Regions from separate parts of the Homo sapiens genome. Here all the other regions are linked to region 4. The links come from fine-mapping of genetic effects on gene expression. A gene starts in region 4. Each other region holds a variant in brackets. All regions are shown on one strand. Distances are between the middles of the regions.

The links.
Region 1: its variant is fine-mapped to the expression of BTBD6 in tibial nerve (GTEx, PIP 0.97).
Region 2: its variant is fine-mapped to the expression of BTBD6 in visceral fat (GTEx, PIP 0.95).
Region 3: its variant is fine-mapped to the expression of BTBD6 in lung (TOPMed, PIP above 0.99).

Annotation. Positions count from the first base shown.
Region 1 is chr14:104,395,472-104,402,817 of GRCh38, forward strand. It overlaps the pseudogene RNU6-684P. Among named protein-coding and RNA genes, the nearest start is that of LINC02691, 180 kb to the left of the region's middle. The variant T/C (reference allele first, on the strand shown) is at 4,153.
Region 2 is chr14:105,275,583-105,282,928 of GRCh38, forward strand. All of the region lies in intron 2 of BRF1 (BRF1 general transcription factor IIIB subunit), which reads right to left. Among named protein-coding and RNA genes, the nearest start is that of BRF1, 22 kb to the right of the region's middle. The variant CTA/C (reference allele first, on the strand shown) is at 3,946.
Region 3 is chr14:105,293,652-105,300,997 of GRCh38, forward strand. It overlaps BRF1 (BRF1 general transcription factor IIIB subunit), which reads right to left. Exons shown (of 18, transcript NM_001519.4): 1 at 6,795-7,346. The coding sequence starts at 6,978. It also overlaps the pseudogene LOC124903409 and a transcript of PACS2 not described here. Among named protein-coding and RNA genes, the nearest start is that of BRF1, 3.7 kb to the right of the region's middle. RefSeq lists enhancers at 482-611, 6,092-6,171 and a silencer at 7,022-7,346. The variant G/A (reference allele first, on the strand shown) is at 2,987.
Region 4 is chr14:105,245,277-105,252,622 of GRCh38, forward strand. BTBD6 (BTB domain containing 6) reads left to right here and starts at 3,257. Exons shown (of 4, transcript NM_001387567.1): 1 at 3,257-3,809; 2 at 3,881-3,971; 3 at 4,084-4,202; 4 at 4,364-5,817. The coding sequence starts at 3,436. The coding sequence ends at 5,396. BRF1 (BRF1 general transcription factor IIIB subunit) reads right to left here. Exons shown (of 18, transcript NM_001519.4): 5 at 7,231-7,303. RefSeq lists enhancers at 2,883-3,673, 4,465-5,254 and silencers at 3,049-3,608, 3,809-3,858.

The sequences.
Region 1 (7,346 bases), 850 kb before region 4:
TCCCACATCGCAGATTTCAGGTGCAAGGATTGAGGTGTCACAGCAAACAGAGGAGGGGCTGGGGTAGGTGTGGTTCTACAGCAGCTCTTAAAACAGAATAAACAAAAACTACAAGCGGTCTGCCACGGTGGCTCACACCTGTAATCCCAGCACTTTGGGAAGCTGAGGTAAAAGAATCACTTGAGCCTGGGAGTGTGAGGCTGCTCCCTCTGGTGAGCTGTGATCACACCACTGTACTCCAGCCTGCGTGACAAAGCGAGACCTTGTCTCTAAAGAAAACAAAACAAAAACCAAGTGTAATCAACCTTGCCCTTGAAAATGCGTTAGTCCACCCACCAGGTCATCTGGAATCTATCTTGGGATAGGTGGTGACCTGGTAGGACCAAGGGTCTTCCGAGGCACTGAAGAACTTGGGTTTTGCTGTAGATCTGAGTGGGGAGTTTTGGGAGGAAGGGGCGGGAAGTACCTTGATCTCACTGCCAGGGCCCCTTTGGCTGCTGAGGGGACAGCAGCTGAAACAGGACGGGCAGTGCACGTCCAGCGAGGACACCCTGGCCGCAGGTCTGCCCAGCGACAGGAGGAGGGCTGCATCTGGGGTCCGTGGTGGAGGTGGACACAGCGGCCAGCTTCTGGGAGCGTTTTAGAGTGAAGTCCACAGGACGTGTGTGAGGGAGTGAGCCGGCATCCAGGGCAAGGTCCTGAGATTCAGACGGTGGTGCTGTTTGGCAGTGACCCTGGGTGTGGGCGTCCCGGGTGCCGGGGAGAGCTCATCTTCAGAAATGAGGAGGCCGGGGGTGGCACAGACTGTCCACACAGGGGTTCTGTGGCCTGGCGTGCTGCCAGTCCAGAGATCCCAAAAAAACCTGTGTCCCGGCTGCTGTCCTTGGCCCTGCTCTGACCCCTGCTCTCCCCGCTGCTTTTCAGAATTGCTGCTCCGTGAATTTCTGAATTGCAGTACTCGCTGTGCACCTGTCTCTTCCTTCGGGAGCCATTGTCAGGTGGGATTGCGTAAATGTCCTCCATGGCGTGAGGCCCTGACTCACCTGAACAACATTCCCCAGTGAGCACGGAGCAGCAGCCCGCCCGGCTCAGCAGTGCCTTGCCCTGGCCCTTTCTCTCCTCGCTGGTTCATCTGCATTAAAGAAACAGAAAGCTTCCTTCGCTGGCCCGCTCATTGCCTGTCTTCTCTCCCTGCCTCAGCTGCGGTCAGGCTCCAGGTGAGCTGCACCTGGCCGTCTCAATTACACTGCTTCTCTGGCATCGGATAGGAACTCTATGGCCAACTTACCCACAAGGTGGTCTGCAATATCTTTGAATAAATTAATGATTGAATGAATGTCTTAGTCCATCCAGGCCACTACAACAAAACAACACAGATGGGGCAGCTTAACAGTGGACATTCATTCCTCACATTTCTGGAGGCTGGGAGTCCAAGGTGAAGGTGGCAGCAGGGTTGGCTCCAGAGAGGGCTGCTTCCTGGTCCCCGGACAGCCTCCTTCTTGCTGTGTCCTCTCATAGCAGAGAGAGGATGTTCTGTCACGGGCCCTCATGACCTCCTCTAAGCCTCATCAGCTCCCAGGGGCCTCACTTGCAAATACCATCGCATTGGGGTCAGAGCTTCCACATAGGAAACATTTGGTCTGTAGCAACGAGTGAATGAATCATTACAGATTTCTCTATAAGACCACCAGGTCTTAATGTATTCAAAGATATTGCAGACCACCTCTTGGGTAAGTTGGCCATAGAGTTCTTATCCAATGCCAGAGAGGCCGCGTAAATGAGACGGCCAGGTGCAGCTCACCTGGAGTCTGACCGCAGCTGAGGCCGGGAGAGAAGACCGACGACGTCTGAGTCGTCAATGTTGTGAAAGATCTCCAGAGTGATGAAATTAAGGGTATTTATTTCTTTAGTTGTTGCTTTTGTTGTAGCAAACAAAATGAAACAAACACACATGCACACAAAACGACCAAGCAAAAAGTGTCCGCTACTTGTTAAAGTGAACCTCTAGTAAAGTTGTCTCTCTTTTTGTCACCGAGGATGAGAAACAGAGATGGGAATTCTATCCTCATGGAAAACAGGAGGCACCCACAACTCTGAGCCCCTGAGAGTGTGAAGGCCTTGCCGAGTGACCTCGCTGCTCCAGGGCGAGGCGGAGGCCAGGCTGCGGGGCTGCACAGCCAGCCAGGGAAGCTCCCCGCCCCAGGACTGCCCTCCCACACACTGCAGACAGTTGTTTCGGGAAGAACTCACTTTATATGCACAAATAAACAATGACAGAAAGGAATGAAAATAGTGTCCACTGAAAACATTACAAGAAAAAGGAAGAAAATAATAGAAAAGGTAAAAAGCAAAGACACAAAAAATCCTCGCATTGGGGAAGATGATGGAAACCTTCTTAACAATCAGAAACTTAACGATCTAAATGAAAATGTCTTTCACGTAAAACAAAAGCCAAGACAGACTTCAATAAGAAACAAAAAGATGATAGGAGATTTCAAAAATAGGCAGGCAGAGCTCAAGAAAAGAAGCAGAATTTTAAAAATCACAAAATGAAGGCCACACTAGAATCAAAGAAAAAGAGAATAGATTCTCCTAAAACCATTGCCAGGGATGTGGAGTCAAGCTTGGAAAAAGTGAAAAAAATTCACCAGAAAAGAATAAAGAGTTGCGATGGTTTAGAGGAAAGGATAGAAAAGGAAAACACAAAATGCCGACACAACACACACATAATTGGTGGCCTTGCAGGAGAAAATCAAATATAAAAGAAAAATAATTCAAATAATTCAAGAAAATGTGGTGAAACTAAAAAAGATGAAATCTATGGATTAAGAGGGTATATCATGTTTCTACAAAAATTGGTGCACTTGATCAGCACTGAGACTTGGGGGTCAAACACGAAGAATTTGTTTGGCACCGAGGCAAAAATATGAAGGCCCTGACATGAGAAGAGAAGTCCAAGCTGGCTTCAGATTTTCTACGGCAACACCTCATCTTAGAGAAGAGGGAAATAATGCCTGCAAAATCTCCAGGAAAAGAAAGTATGAACCAAGAATTTTATATCAGAGTAAAATTTTAGAACAGAATAAAGCTGTTACTCATGCTGAATCATAAAAAAGCGCTTCTGAAAATATTCACAAATGGAGGAACTCTTGTCTACTGAAGTTCCTTTTAAATAAATAAATAGAGAATGAATTTTAGTCCACCAAAAGGCAAATGAACAGGCTGTGAAGGACTAGGTCAAAACAACTGAGAGACTTAGGCCGTGGAGCGTTAAGTAGTGTGGAGTGTGTCAGTGGAGACAGGCGGCAGAGCTTTGGTGGCCTGTGACAAATAAATCCGGACAGCTCCTCCTCTCCCTGTGGGTGCAGCCACTCACCCAGGAAGTCCACTTCCCTCCACCTGACTCTAGGCTGGCCTCATGGCTTCTTTGGCCAATCCAATGAGGCAGAAGGGGTGTCTTGTGAGTTCTGGAACCTGGGTCTTAGGGCGTGGTAGCTTCAATTTTCACTGTCATGGCAAATCCTGATGCCGGGGCGCCTTCTGATATGGTTTGAATAAAATCTCACCTGAAATGTGATCCCCAATGTTGGAGGTGGGGCCTGGTGGGAGATGTTTGGGTTATGGGGGTGGATCCCTCATGAATGGCTTGGGGCTGTCCCCATGGTAGTGAGTGAGTTCTCACTCTTAATTCACACAAGAGCTGGTGTTAAAAAGAGCATGGCACCTCCTCCTATCTCTCTTGCTTCCTCTCCCATCATGTGACATTCTTGTTCCCCTTCCACCTTCCATCATGAGTGGAAGCAACCTGAGGCCCTCACCGGAAGCCGAGCAGATGCCAGTGACATAATTCTGTACAGCTTGCAGAACTGTGAGCCAAATAAACCTGTTGTCTTTATAAATTATCCAAGCTCAGATATTCCCTTATAGCAACACAAAACAGAGTAAGACATCTTCCCTGCGCTGCTCCCGCCACCCCTTCTCCCCGGAGAGCAGCTTCTCGGAAAATCACCTGCACCTGAATCTTTGGCTCAGCATCTGCTCTGAAAAACTTGATCTAACACGGCATCTAAGATCCAAAGGAAGTTAGCTCAGCCTGACGCCAGCTTTCTCTCTAAAAGCACCCAATCCAAGCACATGGCCTGTGGCAGGATG[T/C]GGAAGCAATGCCCCTGGGTCTCAGGACACTCAGGGTAGGCAGGTGGAGAGCTCTTAGTATGGCAGGAGTGATGGGGGTGGGGGTGGGGATGCTGGAGGTGGTGCTGAGAACACAGGTGGCACAAAGACCCAGTCCACTCCTCCTGTGACCTTTGCCCTCCAGCTCCTGCCAATCAACTTCTCAGTCAGTGTCTAGGCCCAGCCCTCTATTGCCTCCGTGCTGCCATGGCCTCCCTGTCCATCTCCCAGGCAACAGAGGAGTCGGTCTGAGGCCTCCAGCCTCACAGCCAGTGTAGTTGCATGTTAGGTACCACTTCCATCCTCGGCTGTCAAAGAACAATGCTCCTTATCTGAAGAATGTGGTCTGGAGATAATTAGTTCTAACGGGACACAGCCCTGTGGCTGCTGTGGATGGGGCTTTGTTGTGGCTCAACAATGCCACCATCAGCCCAGATGTCGTGCACAGGCTTGGGCAAAAGGCAGGTGACTGCAGACTCACAGGGGCTCAAGAAGCACACCACATGGGAGAGCTGTGGAGATTCACTAAAGGATGGAACTAAACAGATCGACAGAGACAGACTAAAAAACAGCCTCTTCAGCCTTTGTCTGCAGTGTGCCTAATGCCTCCAGCCACCAGCAAATCAATAACAATAATAACAAAACCATCACCAGTGACGACAGGGGGCCCTCATCAGGCACTCCACCCATGAGGCACTCACAGTAACTCGATAAAGATGATGCAAATTACATATATCCCTATTCATAGGTGAAGGAAAGGAGGTGGGCAGTTTACCTGACTTGCTCCCAGTCCTGGAATTCTGAGCAGTGAAGCCGAGATTCAAACCCAGGATGCCTGGCTGCAAAGCCCACACATGTGCACAGCTGGCACCATACCCACCCGGTGCTGCCCACACATGTGCACCTGGCCCCATACTCACCCTGTGCTGCCCACGCAAGTCCCCACTGATATGGTTTGGATTTGTGTCCCCACCCAAATCTCATGTCAAATTATAATCCCCAGTGTTGGAGGAGGGGCTTGGTGGGAGGTGACTGAATCATGGGAGCAGATTTCCCTTTTGCTGTTCTCACGATAGTGAGTTCTCATGAGATCTGGTTATTTTAAAGTATGTTGCACCTCCTGCTTCCCAGTCTTCCTCCTTCTCTGGCCATGTAAAATGTGCCTCCTTCCTCTTTGCCTTCTGCCATGATTGTAAGTTTCCTGAGGCACCCCAGCCATGCTTCCTGTACAGCCTGCAGAACTGGGAATCAATTAAACTCCTGTTCTTTATAAATTACCCAGACTCAGGTAGTTCTTTTTTAAAAATTTTTTTCCTTTTAATTTTTCTTTGTCATCCTTGTACAGGGACCATGCTAATGTTCTCTGTACCATTCCAATTTTAGTATATGTGCTGCCAAAGTGAGCACTCAGGTAGTTCTTTATAGCAGTGCCAAAATTGGCACCAGGAAGTACCAGGAAGAGAAGAGAAGAGACCTGAAAATGTGGAAGCAGCTTTGGAACTGGGTAACGAGAAGAGGGTGGAAGAGTTTGGAGATCTCAGAAGAAGACAGGAAGAGGAGGGAAAGTTTGGAACGTCCCAGAGATTTGTTGAATGGTTGTGACCAAAATGCTGATAGTGATATGGACGGTTAAGTCCAGGCTGAGGAGGTCTCATATGGAAATTAGGAACTTATTGGGAACTGGAGTAAAGGTCATTCTTGCTATGCTTTAGCAAAGAGACTGGTGGTGTTGTAACCCTGCTCTAGGGATCAGTGGAACTTTGAACATGACAGTGATGATTTAGGGTATCTGGCAGAAGAAATTTCTAAGCAGCAAAGCATTCAAGATGTGGCCTGGCTACTTCTAACAACATATGGTCATATGCATGAGCGAGGAGATTATCTAAAACTGGAACTTATATTTATTAATAAAAGGGAAGCAGAGCATAAAAGTTTAGAAAAATTGTAGCCTGACCATGTAGTAGAAAAGAAAATCCCCATCAGGTGCAGTAGCTTATGCCTGTAATTCCAGCACTTTGGGAGGCTGCAGCGGGTGGATCACTTGAGGCCAGGAGTTTGAAACCAGCCTGGCCAACATGGTGGAACCCCATCTGTACTAAAAATACAAAAATTAGCTGGGCGTGATGGTGCACATCTGTAATCCCAGCTACTTGGGTGGCTAAGGCACGAGAATCACTTAAACCCAGGAGGCAGAGATTGCAGTGAGCCAAGATCACACCACTGCATTCCAGCCTGGGTGACAGCATGAGACTCCTCAAAAGATTTAAAAACAGAAAAACCCATTTTCTGGGGAGGACTTCAAGCCAGCTGCAGAAATTTGCATGAGTTGCTGAATGTCAACAGCCAAGACAATGGGGAAAATGTCTAAAAGGCACTTCAGAGACTTTGGCGGCAGCCCTCCGATCTCAGGCGTGGAGGCCTAGGAGGGAAGAATGGTTTCATGGGCTGGGCCTAGGGCTCCACTGCCCTGTACAACTTTGGGACACTGCTCCCTGTATCCTAGCCACTCCAGCTTTAGCCATGGCCAAAGGGCCCCAGATATGTCTTAGATGATGGCTCCAGAAGGTGCAAGCCATTCAGTGTTGGTGGCTTCCATGTGGTGTTGAGCCTGTGGGTACACAGAGGGCAAGGGCTGAGGTTTGGGAGCCTCTGGTTAGATTTCAGAAGATGTATGGAAATGCCTGGATGTCCAAGCAGAAGTCTGCAACAGGCCTGGAACTCTCACGGAGAACCTCTACTAGGGCAGTGTGGAGGGGAAATGTGGGGTTGGAGGCCCCACACAGAGTCCCCACTGGGGCACTGCCTAGTGGAGCTGTGAGAAGAGGGCCACTGTCCTCCAGACCCCAGAATGGTAGATGTACTGACAGCTTGCACCACGCACCTGGAAAAGCCACAGGCACTCAGCGGCACCCCATAAAAGCAGCCAAGGGGGCTGTACCCTGCAGAGCCACAGGGCTGGAGATGCCCAAGGCCTTGAGAGCCCACACCTTGCGTCAGTGTGGTCTGGATGTGGGACATGGAGTCAAAAGACATTATTTTGGAGCTTTAAGATTTAATGACTGCCCTGCTGCGTTTTGGACTTGCATGGGGCCTGTGACCCCTTTGTTTTGGTGGATTTCTCCCTTTTGGAGTGGGTGTATTTACCCAATGCCATTACCCTCATTGTATCTTGGAAG
Region 2 (7,346 bases), 30 kb after region 4:
TCTCTGCTGTATGTTTGAAAATTCTGTAATAAAAGGTAAGAGAGAGGTACTCTCTGAGGCCACACACTTGAGGCTGGGACTCGATCCCAAGCCCCGACCCCACAGGCACCAGCTCGTGTTCCCAGCATGCAGGGCTGCTATGGTCAGAATGTCTGACTCCTAAAATTCCTATGTTGAAATCCTATCCCCTACGGGGATGGTATTAAGATGCAGGGCCTTTGCGGGAGACTAGGTCAGGAGGCAGAGCACTAATGATGAGCTCAGTGCCCTTAAAAACCGGACCCCAGAGAACTAGCCCAGCTCTTCTACCACGTGAGGCCACAGTGAGAAGGAGCTGAGAGGCGGCCCTCACTAGAGAGCTGGGGAGGAGGCCACAGTGAGAAGGAGCTGAGAGGGGGCCCTCACTAGAGAGCTGGGGAGGAGGCCACAGTGAGAAGGAGCTGAGAGGCGGCCCTCACTAGAGAGCTGGGGAGGAGGCCACAGTGAGAAGGAGCTGAGAGGGGGCCCTCACTAGAGAGCTGGGGAGGAGGCCACAGTGAGAAGGAGCCGAGAGGCGGCCCTCACTAGAGAGCTGGGGAGGAGGCCACAGTGAGAAGGAGCCGAGAGGCGGCCCTCACTAGAGAGCTGGGGAGGAGGCCACAGTGAGAAGGAGCCGAGAGGGGGCCCTCACTAGAGAGCTGGGGAGGAGGCCACAGTGAGAAGGAGCCGAGAGGCGGCCCTCACTAGAGAGCTGGGGAGGAGGCCACAGTGAGAAGGAGCCGAGAGGCGGCCCTCACTAGAGAGCTGGGGAGGAGGCCACAGTGAGAAGGAGCTGAGAGGGGGCCCTCACTAGAGAGCTGGGGAGGAGGCCACAGTGAGAAGGAGCCGAGAGGCGGCCCTCACTAGAGAGCTGGGGAGGAGGCCACAGTGAGAAGGAGCCGAGAGGGGGCCCTCACTAGAGAGCTGGGGAGGAGGCCACAGTGAGAAGGAGCCGAGAGGCGGCCCTCACTAGAGAGCTGGGGAGGAGGCCACAGTGAGAAGGAGCCGAGAGGGGGCCCTCACTAGAGAGCTGGGGAGGAGGCCACAGTGAGAAGGAGCTGAGAGGCGGCCCTCACTAGAGAGCTGGGGAGGAGGCCACAGTGAGAAGGAGCCGAGAGGCGGCCCTCACTAGAGAGCTGGGGAGGAGGCCACAGTGAGAAGGAGCTGAGAGGCGGCCCTCACTAGAGAGCTGGGGAGGAGGCCACAGTGAGAAGGAGCCGAGAGGCGGCCCTCACTAGAGAGCTGGGGAGGAGGCCACAGTGAGAAGGAGCCGAGAGGCGGCCCTCACTAGAGAGCTGGGGAGGAGGCCACAGTGAGAAGGAGCCGAGAGGGGGCCCTCACTAGGGAGCTGGGGAGGAGGCCACAGTGAGAAGGAGCTGAGAGGGGGCCCTCACTAGAGAGCTGGGGAGGAGGCCACAGTGAGAAGGAGCCGAGAGGCGGCCCTCACTAGAGAGCTGGGGAGGAGGCCACAGTGAGAAGGAGCCGAGAGGCGGCCCTCACTAGAGAGCTGGGGAGGAGGCCACAGTGAGAAGGAGCCGAGAGGGGGCCCTCACTAGGGAGCTGGGGAGGAGGCCACAGTGAGAAGGAGCTGAGAGGGGGCCCTCACTAGAGAGCTGGGGAGGAGGCCACAGTGAGAAGGAGCTGAGAGGGGGCCCTCACTAGAGAGCTGGGGAGGAGGCCACAGTGAGAAGGAGCCGAGAGGCGGCCCTCACTAGAGAGCTGGGGAGGAGGCCACAGTGAGAAGGAGCTGAGAGGGGGCCCTCACTAGAGAGCTGGGGAGGAGGCCACAGTGAGAAGGAGCCGAGAGGCGGCCCTCACTAGAGAGCTGGGGAGGAGGCCACAGTGAGAAGGAGCTGAGAGGGGGCCCTCACTAGAGAGCTGGGGAGGAGGCCACAGTGAGAAGGAGCTGAGAGGCGGCCCTCACTAGAGAGCTGGGGAGGAGGCCACAGTGAGAAGGAGCTGAGAGGCGGCCCTCACTAGAGAGCTGGGGAGGAGGCAACTGTCTCCCCCATCTCCAGCTCAAACTTTCCAGCTCCAAAAGTGTGAGAAACACATTCCTGCTGTTTTGCCTTTCTGGTCTATGGTGTTCTGTTACAGCAGCCCAAAAGGACTAAAATGGGGGCTTATGATGACTGCAGTAAGTTATTTTTTACCATCTTCTTTCTCTTTTTTGAGATGGAGTCTCGCTCTGTCACCCAGGCTAGAGTGCAGTGGTGCGATCTCAGCTCACTGCAACCTCTGCTTCCCGGGTTCAAGTGATTCTCCTGCCTCAGCCTCTTGAGTAGCTGGGACTACAGGCACATGCCACTGCACCCAGCTAATTTTTTGTATTTTTAGTACAGACAGGGTTTCACACTGTTGGCCAGGATGGTCTCGAACTCCTGACCTTGTGATCCACCCATCTCCGCCTCCCAAAGTGCTGGGATACAAGCATGAGCCACTGTGCCTGGCCAAATATGTTATTAATAAACAGATATTCACATAGAAACCAACTACTAATTAGCTAGCCATAGCCTGCGAGTCTCCTTAGACTTCCTTCCAACAAATGAATTCTAAAAGTAAACTCAGGCTGTGTGCCGTGGCTCATGCCTGTAGTAATCCCAGCACTTCGGGAGGCTGAAGCAGGTAGATCACTTGAGCCCAGAAGTTCAAGACCAGCCTGGGCAACATAGTGAGATCCAACTGCTAAAATAATCAGCCAGGTGTGGTGGTGCAAGCCTGTAGGCCCAGCCAAGGTAGGAGGACTGCTTGAGCTTGGAAGGTTGAGGCTGCAGTGAGCCATGATCCTGCCACTGCAGTCCAGCCTGGGCAGCAAGAGAGCGAGACCCTGTCTCCAAAAAAAAAAAAAAAGATTTGAGGCATATCACCACTTACATGTAAAGTATAAAGCAATAAAGCTTCCAGAGGAAAACACAAGAGTATCTTCAGACCTTGGAGTAGATAAGAATTTCTTGAACAAGTCACAAACAGCCCTAACCATAAAAACTGATATACTGGGACTTCATTATAATTAAGAAATTTCTGGCAGGGTGCAGTGGCTCACACCTGTCATCCCAGCACTTTGGGAGGCTGAGGTGGGAGGATCACTGGAGCCCAGGAGTTGAAGACCAACCTGGCCAACATGGTGAGACCCCCATCTCTATTTAAAAAAAAAAAAGAATTGGCCGTGCGCAGTGGCTCATGCCGGTAATCCCAACACTTTGGGAGGCCGAGGCGGGCAGATCACGAGGTCAAGAGATCGAGACCATCCTGACCAACATGGTGAAACCCCGTCTCTACTAAAAAGTACAAATATTAGCCGGGCATGGTGGTGCACACCTGTAATCCCAGCTACTCGGGAGGCTAAGGCAGGAGAATCGCTTGCACCCATGAGGCAGAGGCTGCAGTGAGCCGAGATCGCGCCACTGCACTCCAGTCTGGCAAAAGAGTGAGACTCCATGTCAAAGAAAAAAATTAAAAATGAGTGGATGTGGTGGCATGTACACGTGATCCCAACTACTCGGGAGGCTGAAGTGAGAGGGCGGCTTTAGTCTGGGAGGTTGAGGCTGCAAGGAGCATCGACTGCACCACTGCACTCCAGCCCGGACCACAGAGTGAGTGAGACCCAGTCTCAAAAAAAAAAATTCAGAAGTTTCTGTTCGTCAAAAGACAACATTAAGAGAGTGAGACAAGCTACAGACGTGGGAGGAGGATTCGAAACATGTATATCCAACAAAGGACTCGAATCCAGAATATATAAAGAACTCTACAAATCTGTAAGAAAAAGACAACTCAGTTTTTAAAAAGCACAAAAGACGCCAATAGGCACTTCACACAGAAAGGACGTCCCAACAGCCAAGAAGCATGAGCAAAGGTTGTGGCCATAATTACTCACCAGGGAAAGCGAATTAATGCCGCAGCGAGTGTGCTACACACCTACCAGAAAGA[CTA/C]CAACTGGAAAGGCTGATGATGCCACATGTGAACAAGGCTGCGGAGCCACTGGGACTCTCCTACACTGCTTCCTGGTGGGAACATGAACTGGTACAAGCACTACAGAAAACCCTGTGGCCCTATCTAATGATGAGCACACCCAGACCTCAGGACCCAGACACCCATTCGCAGGTAAACTCCCAAGCGGAGGGGGCACCTGTGTCCACCGAAGGACCAGGTGCAAGAACACGCACAGCAGCTTCCTGTGCACAGCCAAGAATGGAAACACCCTAGACGTCCATCAACAGGAAAAGGAGATAAACTGTGGTCTATTCATCCCATGAAATACTACATTGCAATAAAAGAATAAACTACTTACACGCTCCAAAACAGCACGTTCTAGAACGGCTCCAGCCCAGACACTGGCAAGCCAGATGCGGACGACTAGAGCCACAGGAGCTCTCCTTCCTTGCTGCTGGGAGCACAAAATGGCTCAGGTGCTTTGGAAAAGGGTTTGGCAGTTTCTTACAAAACTCAGCATACTCTCACCACACCACCCAGCAATCACTCAGAAAAACCTGCACGTGACGTTTACAGCAGCTTCACTCATAATCGCCCAAGCCCAGATTCCCTTCAGCAAGCAGGTGAAAGGATAAATCAACTGTGGCGCACCTAGGCGGTGGAATATTACTCACCACTAAAGAGAAAGAGGCCACAGGCTGTGCAGAGACCTGGAGGACAGTTAAATGCCCATGGCTGAGTGACAGGCTGCACAGAGAAAGGATGCACAGTGTGCAACTCCAGCTCTACGACCACATGACCAAGCGCCGGTGAAAAGATCAATGGTTGCTGGAGGCTGGGGAAGGAGGGATGAATGGGTGGAGCTCAGGGGATCTTTAGGACTCTGAAAGCACTCTGTATGAAACTGTAACAGTGGTTACCCGTCACTACGCATTCATCTAAACCCATAGAACACGCACCGCCCAGCGTGAGCCTGGGTGTGTGGTGGAAGCTGCGTGATCCTGAGCCCAGGTGTGCAGATACAGCCTGAATGATCCTGAGCCCGCGTGCGCAGGTGGAGGCTGCATGATCCTGAGCCCGCGTGTGCAGGTGGAGGCTGTGTGATCCTGAGCCTGCGTGTGCAGGTGGAGGCTGCATGATCCTGAGCCCGGCTGTGCGGTGAAGGCTGCGTGATCCTGAGTCCGGGTGTGCGGATACAGCCCGCGTGACCCTGAGCCCGGGTGTGCGGATATAGCCCACGTGACCCTGAGCCTGGGTGTGCAGGTGGAGGCTGCATAATCTTGAGCCCAGGTGTGCAGGTGGAGGCTGCATGACCCTGAGCCCGGGTGTGTGGATACAGCCCACGTGACCCTGAGCCCAGGTGTGCGGATACAGCCTGCGTGACCCTGAGCCCAGGTGTGTGGACAGAGCCTGCGTGACCCTGAGCCCAGGTGTGTGGACAGAGCCTGCGTGACCCTGAGCCCGGGTGTGTGGATACAGCCTGCGTGACCCTGAGCCCAGGTGTGTGGATACAGCCTGCGTGACCCTGAGCCCAGGTGTGCGGATACAGCCTGCGTGACCCTGAGCCCAGGTGTGTGGATACAGCCTGCGTGACCCTGAGCCCGGGTGTGTGGATACAGGCTGCGTGATCCTGAGCCCAGGTGTGCAGGTGGAGGCCGTGTGATCCTGAGCCCGGGTGTGTGGATACAGCCTGCGTGATCCTGAGCCCGGGTGTGTGGATACAGCCTGCGTGACCCTGAGCCCGGGTGTGTGGATACAGCCTGTGTGATCCTGAGCCCGGGTGTGTGGATACAGCCTGCGTGATCCTGAGCCCAGGTGTGCGGATACAGCCTGTGTGACCCTGAGCCCGGGTGTGTGGATACAGGCTGCGTGATCCTGAGCCCAGGTGTGAGGTGGAGGCCGTGTGATCCTGAGCCCGGGTGTGTGGATACAGCCTGCGTGACCCTGAGCCCAGGTGTGCGGATACAGCCTGCGTGACCCTGAGCCCGGGTGTGTGGACAGAGCCTGCGTGATCCTGAGCCCGGGTGTGTGGACAGAGCCTGCGTGATCCTGATGAGTCGATGTGGGGCGGCTGACTGCAGCTCGTGCACCACAGTGGAGGGGGGCACTGACGGGGTCAGGGGAAGCTGTGTGGTGGGAGGTGCTCAGAGTCTACAGGAACTCTCTGCCGATCCATTTTGCTGTGAACCTAAAATGCTCTAAAAATTACAAGTCTTTTTTTTTTTTTTAAATTCCTTTCTATATGATTCCCACTGTATGAAGCAGAAAACCAAGTGAAGCCAGTGGGCAGCAGGTGCTTTCTGAGCTGCTGCAGGCCTGACTCATGTGGATTTGTCAGGTGGTTCATGGAAGGTCAGCACATTTCATGCACTTTACTATGCGTGCTATACTAGGAAAAACAGACCAAGAGAACAGAAAAAGAATTTCCCTGAGAAACGCGTCCCAAACGAAAGGCTCATCAGGTCAATGAAGAGAGCCCCACCTAGCGGCATTTCAGAACCGTCGCTTCAGAACATCAAAGAAATCATCCCAAAAGGCCTGAGATTTTAAAAACAGAGATCAAAACACACTGGCATTCAACGTCTCTTGCTGGTGGACCCGGAGCAGATGCTCCCCACATTCCATGGGGTGCCTGTCTCAACCCCTTGGCAACCATCCCAGGGGGAAGGGGCAGGAGTTTCTCTCTCCCAGACCCTTTCTCTAAATACAGTCTCAGCGTGTCCCCAGCAAACCAAAGGAGGGGCCTGTGACCTCGCAGGGTGCACGGAGGCAAGCAGAGGAGACAGAGTCCTCGCAGAACATGACTGTCGCTGCGGGCAGGAAGGGTGGCCCGTGAGTTTATTTCCATCTTTGCAGTTTTCTAAGAAAGGCAATCAAGACTTCACCAAAACAGTAACAGTCGGAAGCTACATTCACAGATTTCCACCAAACCTGGCAGGCTGGGTGGCGGGCGGGAGTGGAGGCCGTGGGCCAAGCTTGCAGCGGGACCAGGGCTGATATGAAAACTTCAACCAAGGCGGTATGGGGAGAACAAAGGAGAATAAACAAAATTTAAACAAACATAACCCATGATAAATCAATCAATCAAAATAAAGGGTTTTTTAAAAGTAAGATAAATACAGCCAGGTGTAGTGGCTCACACCTCTAATTCAAGCACTTTGGGAGGCCAAGGCGGGTGGATCACCTGAGGTCAGGAGTTCGAGATAAGCCTGGCCAACATGGCAAAACCACGTCTCTACTAAAAATACAAAAATTAGCCGGGCGTGATGGTGGGCACTTGTAACTCCAGCTACTCGGGAGGCTGAGGCAGGAGAGTAGCTTGAACCCAGGAGGCGGAGGTTGCAGTGAGCCCAGATCGCGCCACTGCACTCCAGCCTGGGTGACAGAGCGAGACTCCA
Region 3 (7,346 bases), 48 kb after region 4:
AACTCCACCGTCTGCCTGGCCCCTCCAGCCACGCTGAGCCTCAGTCCTCACCCACCCTTCTCTCTGCACAGTCTCTGCTCGGGTGCCCCGGGACGCTGGAGCACCAGTGTGGTTTCCCCCGTGGGGCCTGGCTTCCAAGGTCAGGACCCTCTGGGGACTCTCCTGAGGCCTCTGGTCACCTGCCCTGATGCCTTAGTTAAATATTCCAGAGTAAACTGCGAAGCTGTATCAGGCTTAGTTCTCAATTAATAGGCAAAACACCTAGGAAAGACAGTGGCCTTGGGACTAGAAAACGACAGCTCAGAGAGAAAGCTCAGCTTTCAAGATGAAGCTGGAGGAAGGGGCGGCTGGGGCCTACTTGTGTGCCAGGGAAACTGAGAAGCCACCAAGGTTTCCAGCCCCCTGTGATCACCACTGTGACGAGGGAGGAAGGATGCCAAGTGGGCACCTAGAGAGCCTGCCTGGGAGACAGAGGGGCTGCCCAGAGCAACAGATCCCCTCTCTCCTCCCCACTCTCGGCCCAGGCACCACCTGCGCCGGTCCCCAGGGGCTAAGAACCCGCCGCCTCGCAGCACTTCCCCCAGGACCACCACAGTTGGTTGCTGGGCCTGCGCCTCCCTCCAGAGAGTGTGCCTGGGCTCAGAGGCGTCTTGGGGCCACCTGACAGCGCTGGCTCTGAGCTTGTTCTGACAGCACCCGGGTGACAGACTTCCAGCTCTGCACTGCTCCACACCACCATCCTCCCCCGGCAGGGCACAGTGAGGGCAGTGCGCTGTCACCAGGCCCGGATGCACTTAACACTGTGCCTGCCCGGGAAACCCTGCGTCTGCTGCCATGACAACTTGCTTTCATTACTGTTGTTATCATCCCAACAGACATCCAAGTCTTGGCAACTGTGACACAGCTGCAAACTCTGTGCCCAGCAGTCCTAGGAAGATACCCAGGGAGTATGAGCATGGAAGACGATGGGGAGGGAAGAGCAGGAGAGAAAACTCAATGAAGCCCAAGCCAGTTCTTAGAAAAGATCAAAAACACGGATCAACTTCTAGCAAGAGAGACAAAGGGAAAAAAAGACACAAAACACCAACATCTGAAAGGAAAAAGGAGGCCACTGTGGACCCCGCAGATATCAAAAGGATAAGGGAATGCTTCGAACAACTCTCTGGGCAAATTCAACAACTAGGTCAAGTGGACCAATTCCTCAACACAAGCGGCTAATTCACCCCAGGTGAAACACAGCATCTTAAATATAACTAGAACCTCAGTGATGAAAGAAGCCGAAACCACAGTGCAGAATCTTCTGAGAAAGAAAGCTTTGGGACCAGATGGCTACGCTGGTGAATTCTACCAAACATTTCAGAAAGAAAGAACACCAACTCTACATAATGTCTTCCAGAAAATAGAAGAGGAAACGTTTCCCAACCCATTCCATAAGGAGCAGAACCCTGATACCCAAGACAAGGACGTTACAGGAAAAACTACAGGCCAATATCCCACGCAAGCATCAGCAGGAACCCTCAACAGAACATCCGGCGCTGAGCAAAGCAGCTCATGCCGCTAATCCCAGCACTCTGGGAGGCCAAGGTGGGAGGATGCCTTGAGGTCAGAAGTTCGAGACCAGCCTGAGCAGCAAAGCAAGACCACATCTCTACAAAAAAAAAAAAAAAAAAAAAAAAATTGGCGTTGGCTCACACCTGTCATCCTAGAACTTTGAGAGGCCAAGACGGGAGAATTACTTGAGCCCAGGAGTTCCAGACGAGCCTGGTCAACATGGCAAAACCCCATCTCTACAAGAAAAATACAAAAATTAGCTGGGTATAGTAGGGCGCACCTGTAGTACCAGCAACTCAGGAGGCTGAGCTGGGAGGGTCACTGGAGCCCAGGGGGTTACGACTGCAGTAAGCCATGACCACTGCACTCCAGCCAGGGTGACTGAGCAAGACCCTAGACCCTGTCTCCCCAACCAAAAAAAAATTTTTTTAATTAGCTGGGCATGGTAGTGCATGCCCGTAGTCCTAGCTACTCTGGAGTCTCAGGTGGAAGGATCTCTTGAACCCAGAAGTTCCAGGCTGCAGTGACCTGTGATCACACCACTGCACTCCAGTCTGGGCAACAGTGAGACTTTGTCCCAGAAAAAAAAAAAAAAGCTGGGTGCGGTGGCTCACGCCTGTAATCCCAGAACTTTCAGGGGCCAAGGCAGGTGTATCACTTGAGATTAGAAGTTCAAGACCAGCCTCACCAACATGGTGAAACCCCATCTCTACTACAAATACAAAAACCAGCCGGGTATGGTAGTGGGCTCCTATGTAATCCCAGCTACTCAGGAGGCTGAGGCAGGAGAATCGCTTGAACCCAGGAGGGGGAGGTTGCAGTGAGCCCAGATTGCGCCACTGCACTCCAGCCTGGGCAACAGAGCGACACTCTATCTCAAAAAAAAAAAAAAAAAAAAAACTCAAGGAGTGTATTAAAAACTCTTAGGGGCCAGGTGTGGTGGCTCACACCTGTAATCCCAGCACTTTGGGAGGCCAAGGCGGGTGGATCGCCTGGCCAACATGGCAAAACCCCATCTCTACTAAAAATACAAAAACTGCGGCCGGGTGCAACAGCTCACACCTGTAATCCCAGGACTTTGGGAGGCCGAGGTGGGCGGATCACGAGGTCAGGAGATTGAGACCATCCATGTAACCCCGCCTCTGCTAAAAATACAAAAAATTAGCCGGGCGTGGTGCTGGGCGCCTGTAATCCCAGCTACTTGGGAGGCTCAGGCAGGAGAATGGCATGAACCTGGGAGGCAGAGCTTACAGTGAGCCGAGATTGTGCCACTGGACTCCAGCCTGGGTGACAGAGCAAGACGCCGTCTCAAAAAAAAAAACAAAAAACTTAGCTGGGTGCGGTGGCGGGTGCCTGTGATCCCAGCTACTTGGGAGGCTGAGGCAGGAGAATCTCTTGAACCTGGGAGGCGGAGATTGCAGTGAGCCAAGATGGT[G/A]CCACTGCACTCCAGCCTGGGCAACAAGAGCAAGACACCAGCTCAAAAAAAAAGAAAAAAAAAAAAAAACCTCTTAGAACAAGTAAGTTTAGCAAAGCCATAGGAAACAGGACAACACACAGAAATCAACCATATTTATATAAACAAGCAATGAAGAGTTGAAAACTAAATTAAAAAAATTCCACTTATAATAACTCCTAATAGAGCTTAGGTACACATCTAAAAAATGTCCAGAGGGCCAGGCACGGCAGCTCATGCCTATAATTCCAGCACTTTGAGAGGCTGAAGTGGGGGGGGATCACTTGAGGTCAGGAGTTCGAGACCAGCCTGGCCAACATGGTGAAACCCTGTCTCTACTAAAAATACAAAAATTAGCCAGGCGTGGTGGTGGGCTCCTGTAATCACAGCTACTTGGGAGGCTGAGGCACGAGAATCGCTTGAACCCAAGAGGCAGAGGTTGCAGTGAGCCGAGGTTGCACCACTGCACTCCAGCCTGAGTGACAGAGCGAGACTCCATCTCAAAAAAAAAGTCCAGAAGCTGTATGCTGAAAACTACCCAACACTGACAGACTATATCAAAGAAAATCTAAATGAATGCAAACATACACTGTGTTCCATGGACTACAAGATTCAACATAGAAAAAATGTCAGCTGGGCACAGTGGCTCCCACCTGTAATCCCAGCACTTTGGGAGGCCGAAGAGGGCGGATCACGAGGTCAGGAGTTCGAGACCAGCCTGGCCAATGTGGTGAAACCCCGTCTCTACTAAAAAATATACAAAAATTAGCTGGGTGTGGTGGCGTGTGCCTGCAGTCCCAGCTACTCAGAAGGCTGAGGCAGCAGAATCACTTGAACTCGGGAGGCGGAGGGTGCAGTGAGCTCAGATCGCGCCACTGCACTTCAGCGTGGGTGACAGGGTGAGACTCTGTCTCAAAAAAAGAGAAAGAAAGAAAAAATGTCAGCTCTCCCTAAATATATCAAGAGGTTTAATGCAATTCCAATGAAAACCCCACCAGGACTTTTGTACAGGTTGAACATCCCAAATCCAAAAATCTGAGATTATAAATGCTCCAAAACGGCCCGGTGCAGTGGCTCACGCTGGTAAACCCAGCACTTTGGGAGGCTGAGGCAGGTGGATCACGAGGTCAGGAGATCGAAACCATCCCGGCTAACACGGTGAAACCCCGTCTCTACTAAAAATACAAAAAATTAGCCGGGCGTGGTGGCGGTCGCCTGTAGTCCCAGCTACTTGGGAGGCTGAGGCAGGAGAATGGCGTGAAGCCAGGAGGCGGAGCTTGCAGTGAGCCGAGATAGTGCCACTGCACTCCAGCATGGGCAGCAAAGCGAGACTCCGTCTCAAGAAAAAAATAAAATAAAAAATAAATGCTCCAAAACATGAAACTTTTTGAGTATCAACACGATGCTCAAAGGAAATGCTCACTGGAGCATCTCAGATTTCAGATTTTTCGATTAGGGATGCTTAACCAGTAATTATAATGCAGATATTCCAAAATCAGAAAACTCTGGTATCCAAAACACTTCTGGTCCCAAGCATTTCAGGTAAGAATATGTGACCTGCAGAGATGCACAAACTTACTCTAAAATTAAAAAGAGAAAGGGAAATTAATAGCCACAACAACTTTGAAAAGGAAGAACAAAGGTTGAGGGACTCACAATATCTGATTTCAGGACAATATAACAGGTATAGTAAAAAAGCGTGTGATGCTGACAAAGGAAAACGGCACCTGATCAACAGGGCAGGACACAAGGCCCAGAGACAGACCTGCACGGACGGGGCCCAGTGAGCACAGCCGAGGGAGCAAAGGCCTTCAGTCTTTCAACAAACGGTGTTGAAACAAGGGGACCTCCAGATAAACAATGAGCCTCAGCCTACAAAGCACACCTTATACAAAACATAGATGGACCACAGATTTAGGCCAGGTGCGGTGGCTCGCGCCTGTAATCCCAGCACTTTGGGAGGCTGAGGCAGGCGGATCACTTGAGGTCAGGTGTTCAAGACCAGCCTGACGAACAGGGTGAAACCCTGTCTCTACTAAAAATACAAAAATTAGCCAAGTGAGGTGGCGCACGCCTGTAATCCCAGGTACTTGGGAGGCTGAGGCACGAGAATCACTTGAACCTGGGAGGCAGAGGTTGCAGTGAAACGAGATTGTGCCACTGCACTCCAGCCTGGGCCACAGAGCAAGATTCTGTCTCAAAAAAAAAAAAAAAGTTAAAACTTCTGCTTTGAGGCCGTGCGCAGTGGCTCACGCCTGTAATCCCAGCACTTTGGGAGGCCGAGGTAGGCGGATCACGAGGTCAGGAGATCGAGACCATCCTGGCTATCACAGTGAAACCCCGTCTCCACTAAAAAATACAAAAAAAATTAGCCGGGCATGGTAGTGGGCTCCTGTAGTCCCAGCTACTCGGGAGGCTGAGGCAGGAGAATGGCGTGAGCCTGGGAGGCAGAGCTTGCAGTGAGCCGAGATCGAGCCACTGCACTCCAGCCTGGGCAACAGAGCAAGACTCCATCTCAAAAGAAAAAAAACTTCTGCTTTGAAAATCACATATACAACAAAGGGCTTGTAACTACAATCCACAAAGAACTCCCAAAACTCAACAATAAGAAAACAACCCAAATAAAAAATGAGAGTCAGGGTGTGGTGGCTCACGCTGTAATCCCAGCAATTCGGGAGGCCAAGGCTGGAGTATCACTTGAGCCCAGGAGTTTGAGACCAGCCTGGGCAACATAGAGACCTTGTCTCTACTAAAAATAAAATAAAATAAATGATCACAGCATGGTGGCATGCACCTGTAGTCTCAGCTACTCAGGAGGTTGAGGCAGGAGAATTGCCTGAGCCTAGGAGTTCAAGGCTGCAGAGAGCCATGACTGGGCCATTGCACACCAGCCTGGGCCACAGAGTGAGATCCTGTCTCGAGATAAATAAAAAAATAAGACTTGAGCACACATTTCAACAAAGAGGATTCGGGCATGGCAAATAAGCACCCTAATAAGGTTGAACATCACTAGCCAGTAGAGAAATACAGAATACCACTATGATGAGATGCCACACACCTGTTAGAACAACCGAAATAAAAACATCGACAACACCAAGTGCTGGTGAAGATGTGGGGCAACTGGTGAGAATGCATAATGGCACAGCCACATCACAAAACAGTTCATGACAGTTTCCCATAGAGTTACACATACAGCTAAGTTCCCCAGAGAAATGAAAACGTATGTTCACACAGAGAGCTGCAAATGAATCCTTTTAGCAGCTCTATTCACAACCACCTGAAACTGGCCACAGTCCAGCTCCTTCCACAGGCTGGGGTCCATCCCCAGCCCGCAATACTGCCCATCACTGAAACGTCCCCTCCGAGGCCTGCAGCAGCCTGAGTGGCCCTAGGGCATCCGCCCGGTAACCACCAAGGCCAAGGGCAGCAGCAATCGGATTCTAAGTACCAGACATTGCTGAAAACAAAACTGCAGGCACAGAGAGTGACAGTGAGGGGCAGCTTGAGGGGCCTTCTGGGCTCCCCAGGCTCTCTTCAACCCTCCCTGTGCTGGCTGCCCTGGCCCACGCGTGTGTCGAGGAAGTCCACGCACGCCACGGGGGTCCACAGGCGCGCGAAGAAGGTCTACATTCTCGCCAAGGGGATCCACACTCGCGCCCAGACGGCGCAGAACCGCGCGCCCCGACAGAGCGTGCGGTACCGAGGCGCTGGTCCCGGCCGCGCCGTCACCGCCTCCAGCCCGCCTAAGCCGCACCGAGAAATCCGCGCAGCGCCAGCCCGCGGGACTCACCGTCCAGGGACACGAACTGGCCCACGGCCGAGGAGCCGCCGCCGCTGCTCTCCACGAACTGCACCTCGGACACGATGATGTTGTCCTCCAGCACTGAGCCGCAGGCGGTGCACACCGCGTCCCCGCGCGCCGCGTCCAGCTCGATGTCCGTGCCGCCGCAACCGCGGCACACGCGGCCCGTCATGCCGGCGACCGCGCGGGCAGCGCCCGGAGCCTCCCAAGACTCTCAAGCCACCCGAGCCTCCGGAGCAGCCCGCGCCGCCCGCCCAGGCCCAGCCGCCCAGGCCTCGCCGCTCTCGCGAGGCCCCGCTCCAGCCGATTCGCAGCCGCAGATTCGCCGCGCGCGCCCGGGCCGCGCCGCCCGCAACGGCCGCGCCCGCGGGATGGGACAGGCACCGGGACCACGGCGGGGACGCGAGGACTGGAGCCGCGACCTCCCCACTGCGAGCGAGCTGGCCTCCCTTGCGGCGCGCCGGCGTCGGAGGGGCGACCTGCGGGGGCTGGGCTTCGGCGGAACCCGAGCGGGGCCTACCGGTGAGCGCAGCCGAGGAC
Region 4 (7,346 bases):
CTTGAACCTGGGAGGTGGAGGTTGCAGTGAGCTGAGATCGTGCCACTGCACTCCAGCCTGAGTGACAGAGCAAGACTCCATCTCAAAAAAAATAAATAAATAAATAAAGGAAGCAATGAAATTAATGAACTAAAATAACAGAAAACTAAAAATTAACAAAATTAATTATTTAAAGTAGGCAAAGGGACTAATAAGAAAAAGAAGCAAATAAATTACCACTGTCAAGAAAAGAATTAAAAAGTCCAACAGCCAGTATGGTGCTGACATAAAGACAGACCTACAGACCAACAGAACAGAACAGGACAGGACAGGACAGGACAGGACAGCACAGGGCCAGAAATGACAATGACAGACAGATGACCTTCAACAAGGGTGACAAGAACTTCTTGCACAATGGGGAAAGGATGGTCTCTTCAATATGCAGCGCTGGGAAAACTGGATATCCACTTGCAAATAAAGATAGACCCTTACCTTACATCATACACAAAAACTAACTCAAAACCGATGCAAGACCCAAACACAGACTTGAAACTGTAAAACCCTTAGAAGAAAACAAAGGGAAAGACTTCACGACATTGGTCTTGGCAATGATTTCTTGAACATGACACCAACAGCAAGGGCAACGAAAGTAAAAATAGACAAATGGGATGACCTCAAACTAAAAAGTTTCTGCACAGCAAAGGAATCTATTAACAGAAATGATATCCTATAGAATGGAAGAGACTATGTGCAAACCATCTATCTCATAAGGGGTTAACAGCCTGAATATACAAAAAACTCCAACTCAGGAACAAAATCGATTAAAAATGGGCAAACTGCACTTTTGTAATCCCAGCTCTTTGGGAGGCTGAGGCACAAGAATCGCTTGAACCTGGAAGGCGGATGTTGCAGTGCACCCTCACCACCGCACTCCAGCCTGGGCAACGGAGTAAGACTCTGTCTCAAAAAAAAAAGGCAAAGCCCTTGAACAGACGTTTCTCCAAACACGCCATGCAAATAGCCAACAAGCACATGAGTAGATGGTCAACATCATTATTTATCAGGGACATGCAAATCAAAACCACATGACACTACCTCATGTCCATTAGGATGACCATTATCACAAACAAAAAAGAATAGGCTGGGCGCGGTGGCTCACACCTGTAATCCCAGCACTTTGGGAGGCCTAGGCAGGTAGATCACTTGAGGCCAGGAGTTTAAGACCAGCCTGGTCAACGGAGTCTCGCTCTGTCATCCAGGCTGGAGTGCAGTAGCATGATCTCAGCTCACTGCAACCTCCGCCTCCCTGGTTCGAGCCATTCTCCTTCCTTGGCCTCCCGAATAGCTGGGATTACAGGTGCCCGTTAATTTTTGTATTTTTAGTAGAGATGGGGTTTCACCATGTTGGCCAGGCTGGTCTCAAACTCCTGACCTCAAGTGATCCGCCCACCTTGGCCTCCCAAAGTGCTGGGATTACAGGCGTGAGCCACCGCGCCCAACCTACACTGTAACATATTTAAAAATCAAAGTGCAAAGGGTGGTTTCTTTCTAAGGATGAAAATTATTATTCACATGCTCCACACCACCATGCAGATCAAGACGCTGACTACCTCTGGCGGCTCAGCAATTCTATCCTGGCACCCCCGGAGACAGCTGTCGCCCAGGTCTTGTGTGCTGCTGTAAGTTATTCCTTCTCACTGCATTCCCCAAATGGACCCACCACAACCTGCTGATCCTTTCTGTTGCTGATGGACATGTAGGCTGTCTCCACTCTGGCCATTTGTATTTCTCCTGGAAACTGCTTATGCCCGTTACCTTTTTCTATGGAAACAGACGGCTGGGACAGAAACCACGGCCACAGCAGCCAGCGTGTCTTTGCCAGTGGGGTCCCACACTATGAAATCGCAGCTGTGGCCTCGGTGGGTGTGTCCTTGGCGGGTGCATCCACACACTTTCTCTCGGAACTTTCCGGACTCTCATGCATATGCTACAGCTTTCCAAACGGCTTGGCCGTGCGGAGTTACGCACCCACCTGCAGCAGGTGATCTCCAGCTGCTCTGCATTCCACCAACACTACGTGACAAGTCTCAAGTTCAGCCGCCTGGGGGCTCGGGCACCCCATTCCTGGGAGAAATGATGATTTGTGCACTCTGGGCCATTGCATGGTGTCTGTTCACGTCCTTTGCCCGTTTTTTAAAAAACTGGGTTGTCAGCCTTTTCCTTCCTGACTTGTAGTTGCTCCTCCATCCTGGAGAGTCCTTTGTTGAAAATACCGCAAATATCTTCTGAAGAGGACTCTCCCAGGGAACATTCACTACAACTGTAACGACCACAGAGACACAGAGCTCCTGTTCACTGTTTAGCCCAGGACTGCGGTGACAGGTGCACCCATGACCCGAGATGCTGGCTGCGTCCTGTGGGGTTTCCTGCATATGGAAGTTTTAAAAGTCTAAAGCCTGGCGGTCCAGGAGGTTGCGTGTGTGTCCTCGGGGAGGAACCCTCCTGACAGCCAGGCCTCTGGAGCTTCGTCTGCACGCGAGCTTGGCATGCACCAGCTGTGCGGCCCAGGCCAGGTGACACGGCCTCTGAAGTCTGGTCTCCTCATCAGCAAAGCCAGTGCCCCATGCCACGCACCTCCCAGGATTAGCCCCAGGCCGGGAGGCTAGAGGCCCCACAAGGAGCGAGCCTGCGACTGCGATCCACAGGCAGAGCCACAGAGGCAGGGCGCGCCCTGGGGCCCAAGCTCCAGGGCTGCAGGCCCAGGGCCAGATCCTGACTTGCCCACCCGCCGGCTGTGTGACCTTCAGCGCGCGACTAACCTCTCTGTGCCTATTTCCTCGAGGAAAATGCCGGGAAATAGCAGCGCCTGCCCCTGTAAAGCCCTCAGAGCAGAGTGGACCGCGCTCTCTGCAAGCGCTGGCTGCTGGCGTCCGTAGCAAGCTAAATCGCGAAGCATCTGAACGAACGAGGAAGCCCAACGACCATCCCACAGGCCGCGGCCAGAGGCAGACTCCGGAATGCAAATGGCCAAACAAGCAGGTCCACCTGCGTTCCTAACCAAAAGATCGCTAACTGAAGAACGGGCGCAAGCACCTGCGCATGGCACTGCGGGTCTGGGGGCGGCCGCCTGCCAGCGCCGGGAGCCGCCTTCCACGGCTACCTCTGCACAGCGCGCGGCTCGCGCCGGTTGCTGGGCAGAAGCTCGAGCAGCTTCGAGGATGTCGGGCCTGGGGGCGGGGCCGCGAGGCAGCGACGTCGCGCGGGGCGCGGCCCTGACGCAGCGTGACGCACCGGCGCCGCGGCGGGTACGGGCTCGGGCGGGCGGGCGGGCGGGACGGCGCCCCCCGCGGCCGGGCCTGGCCGGGCTGCGCTAGGCTGGGCTCGGGCAGGGTCGCAGGGGCGGGGGTGGCAGGGGAGCGGGTGGCAGCCCCGCGGGTCACAGCGCCGCCGCCGCCCATGCTGCTGCCCCTAGCCTGCCTGCACGGCCGCGTCGCTCAGTGCCTGACCTCCTTGCTTTTGCTTGCAGAGCCGCTCCCGAGGCCCCGGCGCGGCGCGAGGGCGCGGGGCGCGGCGTCCACAGGCGCCGAGGCTGCCCCCGCCGCCCCGCCCGCGAAGATGGCGGCGGAACTCTACGCTCCCGCCAGCGCCGCGGCCGCGGACCTAGCCAACAGCAACGCCGGCGCCGCCGTGGGCAGGAAGGCCGGGCCGCGCAGCCCGCCCAGCGCCCCCGCGCCAGCGCCGCCGCCGCCCGCGCCCGCGCCGCCCACACTCGGCAACAACCACCAGGAGAGCCCCGGCTGGCGGTGCTGCCGCCCCACGCTGCGCGAGAGGTGAGCCCGTGCCCCGCGGCCCCCGCGCCCGCGCGCGCCCACGCCCCCAGCCCGTGCCTCTACCTTTGCAGGAACGCGCTCATGTTCAACAACGAGCTCATGGCCGACGTGCACTTCGTCGTGGGGCCCCCGGGGGCGACCAGGACGGTGCCCGCCCACAAGGTGGGTAGCGGCGGCCCCTCTCGGAACGCGTGCCCCGTCCGCCCCGTCCGCCGTGTGGCTGACACGCAGCCTGCGGGAGAGCCAGGCTCACGGCGGCGCTTTCTCCTCCCAGTACGTCTTGGCTGTCGGCAGCTCCGTCTTCTATGCCATGTTCTACGGAGACCTGGCGGAAGTCAAATCTGAAATTCACATTCCAGACGTGGAGCCCGCAGCCTTTCTGATCCTCTTAAAGTAAGTCCACTCTACTGGGGAGGGACGGGTGGGTCCGTTTTAGGCGGCCTCCGGAGGCTTCTGAAGGGAAGCACACAGGAGCTGATGGACTCCTCTCCCAGGCCCAGCCCCGCGATGGGTGCTTGGGAGCCAGCCCCTGACGCGGGCCCTGCCTCGCCTAGGTACATGTACAGTGATGAGATCGATCTGGAAGCCGACACGGTGCTGGCCACTCTGTACGCTGCTAAGAAGTACATCGTCCCAGCATTGGCAAAAGCCTGTGTCAACTTTCTGGAGACAAGTTTGGAAGCCAAGAACGCCTGCGTCCTGCTGTCCCAGAGCCGGCTGTTTGAGGAGCCCGAGCTGACGCAGCGCTGCTGGGAGGTCATTGACGCACAGGCCGAGATGGCCCTACGGTCCGAAGGCTTCTGTGAGATAGACCGGCAGACGCTGGAGATCATTGTCACTCGGGAGGCCCTCAACACCAAAGAGGCGGTGGTCTTCGAGGCCGTCCTGAACTGGGCCGAGGCGGAGTGCAAGAGGCAGGGGCTGCCAATCACCCCACGAAACAAGAGGCATGTTCTGGGGCGAGCCCTCTATCTGGTCCGAATTCCAACCATGACCCTAGAGGAGTTTGCCAACGGCGCTGCCCAGTCAGACATCCTGACTCTGGAGGAGACCCACAGCATCTTCCTGTGGTACACGGCCACCAACAAGCCCCGCCTGGACTTTCCCCTGACCAAGAGGAAGGGCCTCGCCCCGCAGAGGTGCCACCGATTCCAGTCTTCTGCCTACCGCAGCAACCAGTGGCGGTACCGCGGGCGCTGCGACAGCATCCAGTTTGCAGTGGACAGAAGGGTATTTATTGCAGGGCTGGGCCTGTATGGCTCCAGCTCTGGGAAGGCTGAGTACAGCGTGAAGATTGAGCTCAAGCGGCTCGGGGTGGTTCTGGCTCAGAACTTGACCAAGTTCATGTCAGACGGATCCAGTAACACCTTCCCGGTCTGGTTTGAACACCCGGTCCAGGTTGAACAAGACACCTTCTACACGGCCAGTGCCGTCCTGGACGGCAGCGAACTCAGCTACTTTGGGCAGGAGGGGATGACGGAAGTGCAGTGTGGAAAGGTGGCCTTCCAGTTCCAGTGCTCCTCGGACAGCACCAACGGGACTGGGGTCCAGGGTGGGCAGATCCCTGAGCTCATTTTCTATGCCTGAGGTGCCCGGGGAGGCTGCAGCAGGTCAGCGAGTGAGTGGAGGGGAAGTCAAGATGCTAACTGCTTCTTGACACCATGAAAGGCTGCTCTTAACTTTGTCTCTCTTTGACATGTAGTCAGCTGAAGCTTGACTGTGTAGAGACATTTTCCACACAGCCAGAACCCAGGGATTGGAGTCTTAGGCATCTCTGGTACAGTGGGGTGCACGTCTCAGGTGGAGGAAGATTTACGGCTCAAGACAGGCCCCAGATCCCCTCCCAGTGGCACCCATGCCACCTGCTTTGAGGGGTTGGATCTTCCTGCTACCCTCTTGGATTCTAAGTGGTTCCAAGCTTAACTTGAGACCTTCCCTTCAAATCTAAAATTGGCAAAAAGTCACTTAAAATAGTGGACTTCTGTAATAAAGGTTGCCTAAAATAACACCCACGTGTCAGTAAATGACTACAGCAGTTGTACAGTGGGGTATTCTCTTTCTCATGCAACAGAACAGCTCCCTCCCATCCCGAGGAGAAAACCTGTCATGCTGAACATGCTATGTGGTTAGGAGCAAACTGCGCCCCAGTGAAGCCCATCTGTCCCCTGGGTTGCTGGCTGGCTTCTGGGCCACCCTAGGAAACACCAGGTGCCTGGTTGTCTCTATGTCCTAATGCATCACTAGCACCTCAGAGTCCTACCCTATGAACAGACTGTCGGGGGAGCATTCTGCTGGGCCCAGCGTTCTGGACCCTGGGGACTGTCACTAGCTGTGACACTGCTGCGGGACAGCCTGTTGCAGGAGTGGACTATAGGGTGAAACAGGCTCTCCCACCCCTTGTCTCTCTCCTCCCACTCTGCATACCCTGTAGGCAGTTGTTTTCTGGAAAACCTGTATGACCCCCGAAAAGAGGGATGGCCCCTCTTGGCACCTGGGAGAGGGCATGGGCCGAGTGTATAGCCTCAGCCGGTGCCCCTCTGCTGCTGCAGCCCGTGTTGCTCAGTCCTGTTGGTGACCCAGCCCCACCTGGTGCTTCTCTACCCAAAGGACATACGCTCCTAGATGCAAACAGGCAAAGTAAGAAAGGGGCCTCTAAGCGGGCCATGGAAACCAGTCATCTGCTTGGTAAAGAAAGGGTAGGTCAGAACCATCGGGCAGTGAGTGCTGTTTTGATCCTTTCCTTCTAGACTTTTCCGCTAGGTTAGATTCTGCATGCATGAACACTGCTGCTGCCTCGAGGGAGAGACAGGACTTACCCTACACCTAACACACATCAAGAAAGGCATACAGGAGTTCCACAAACTCGCACACAACACAGAACAAAAGTGGCAGAAAAACCACAAAAGAGGGCTGTGGCTGGAAAGCACAACCAGGAGCTGCCCCACTGTCCCCATCTGTCCAGAGGCACCTGGAGCCAGGTGTGTCCCTTAAACCTTGTCCACACAAGATGCTCCCAGCACGCAGCACTTGTTTCCCTGTCTACACCTTCCTGCCACCTGACAGGCACTGACAACAGGCCTTCTGGTTTTGCAGCAGAAAGCAAGCCCCAGGCCAGGTGCGGTCTCATGCCTGTAATCCCAGTGCTTTGGGAGGCGAAGGCACGAGGATCACTTGAGGCCAGGAGTTTGAGGCTGCAGTGAGCTACGATTGTGCCACTGCACTCCAGCCTGGACAACAGCGAGACTGTGTCTTAGAAAATAAGGCCCCACATTACTGAGCTCCTAGCAGCTTTAAGAAACATTTCTTACCTTGAGGGGTCCCATGCTTGGACAGGATTTCCCTCCACTGTTCAAAGGACATTTGGCACGCTGGTCCCTACAGCAGCCTGCCGGACACCCCAGCATCTCACCCAGATGCCTACCTATGGCCGGCGCATTGATGCAGAGCTCTCTTGCCAAGAGAAGAAACGTCTTTCCAAGCACGTACACATTCACCTGAGATGGAGAGATCACAACCAGAAACAGCATTGGTATTTAA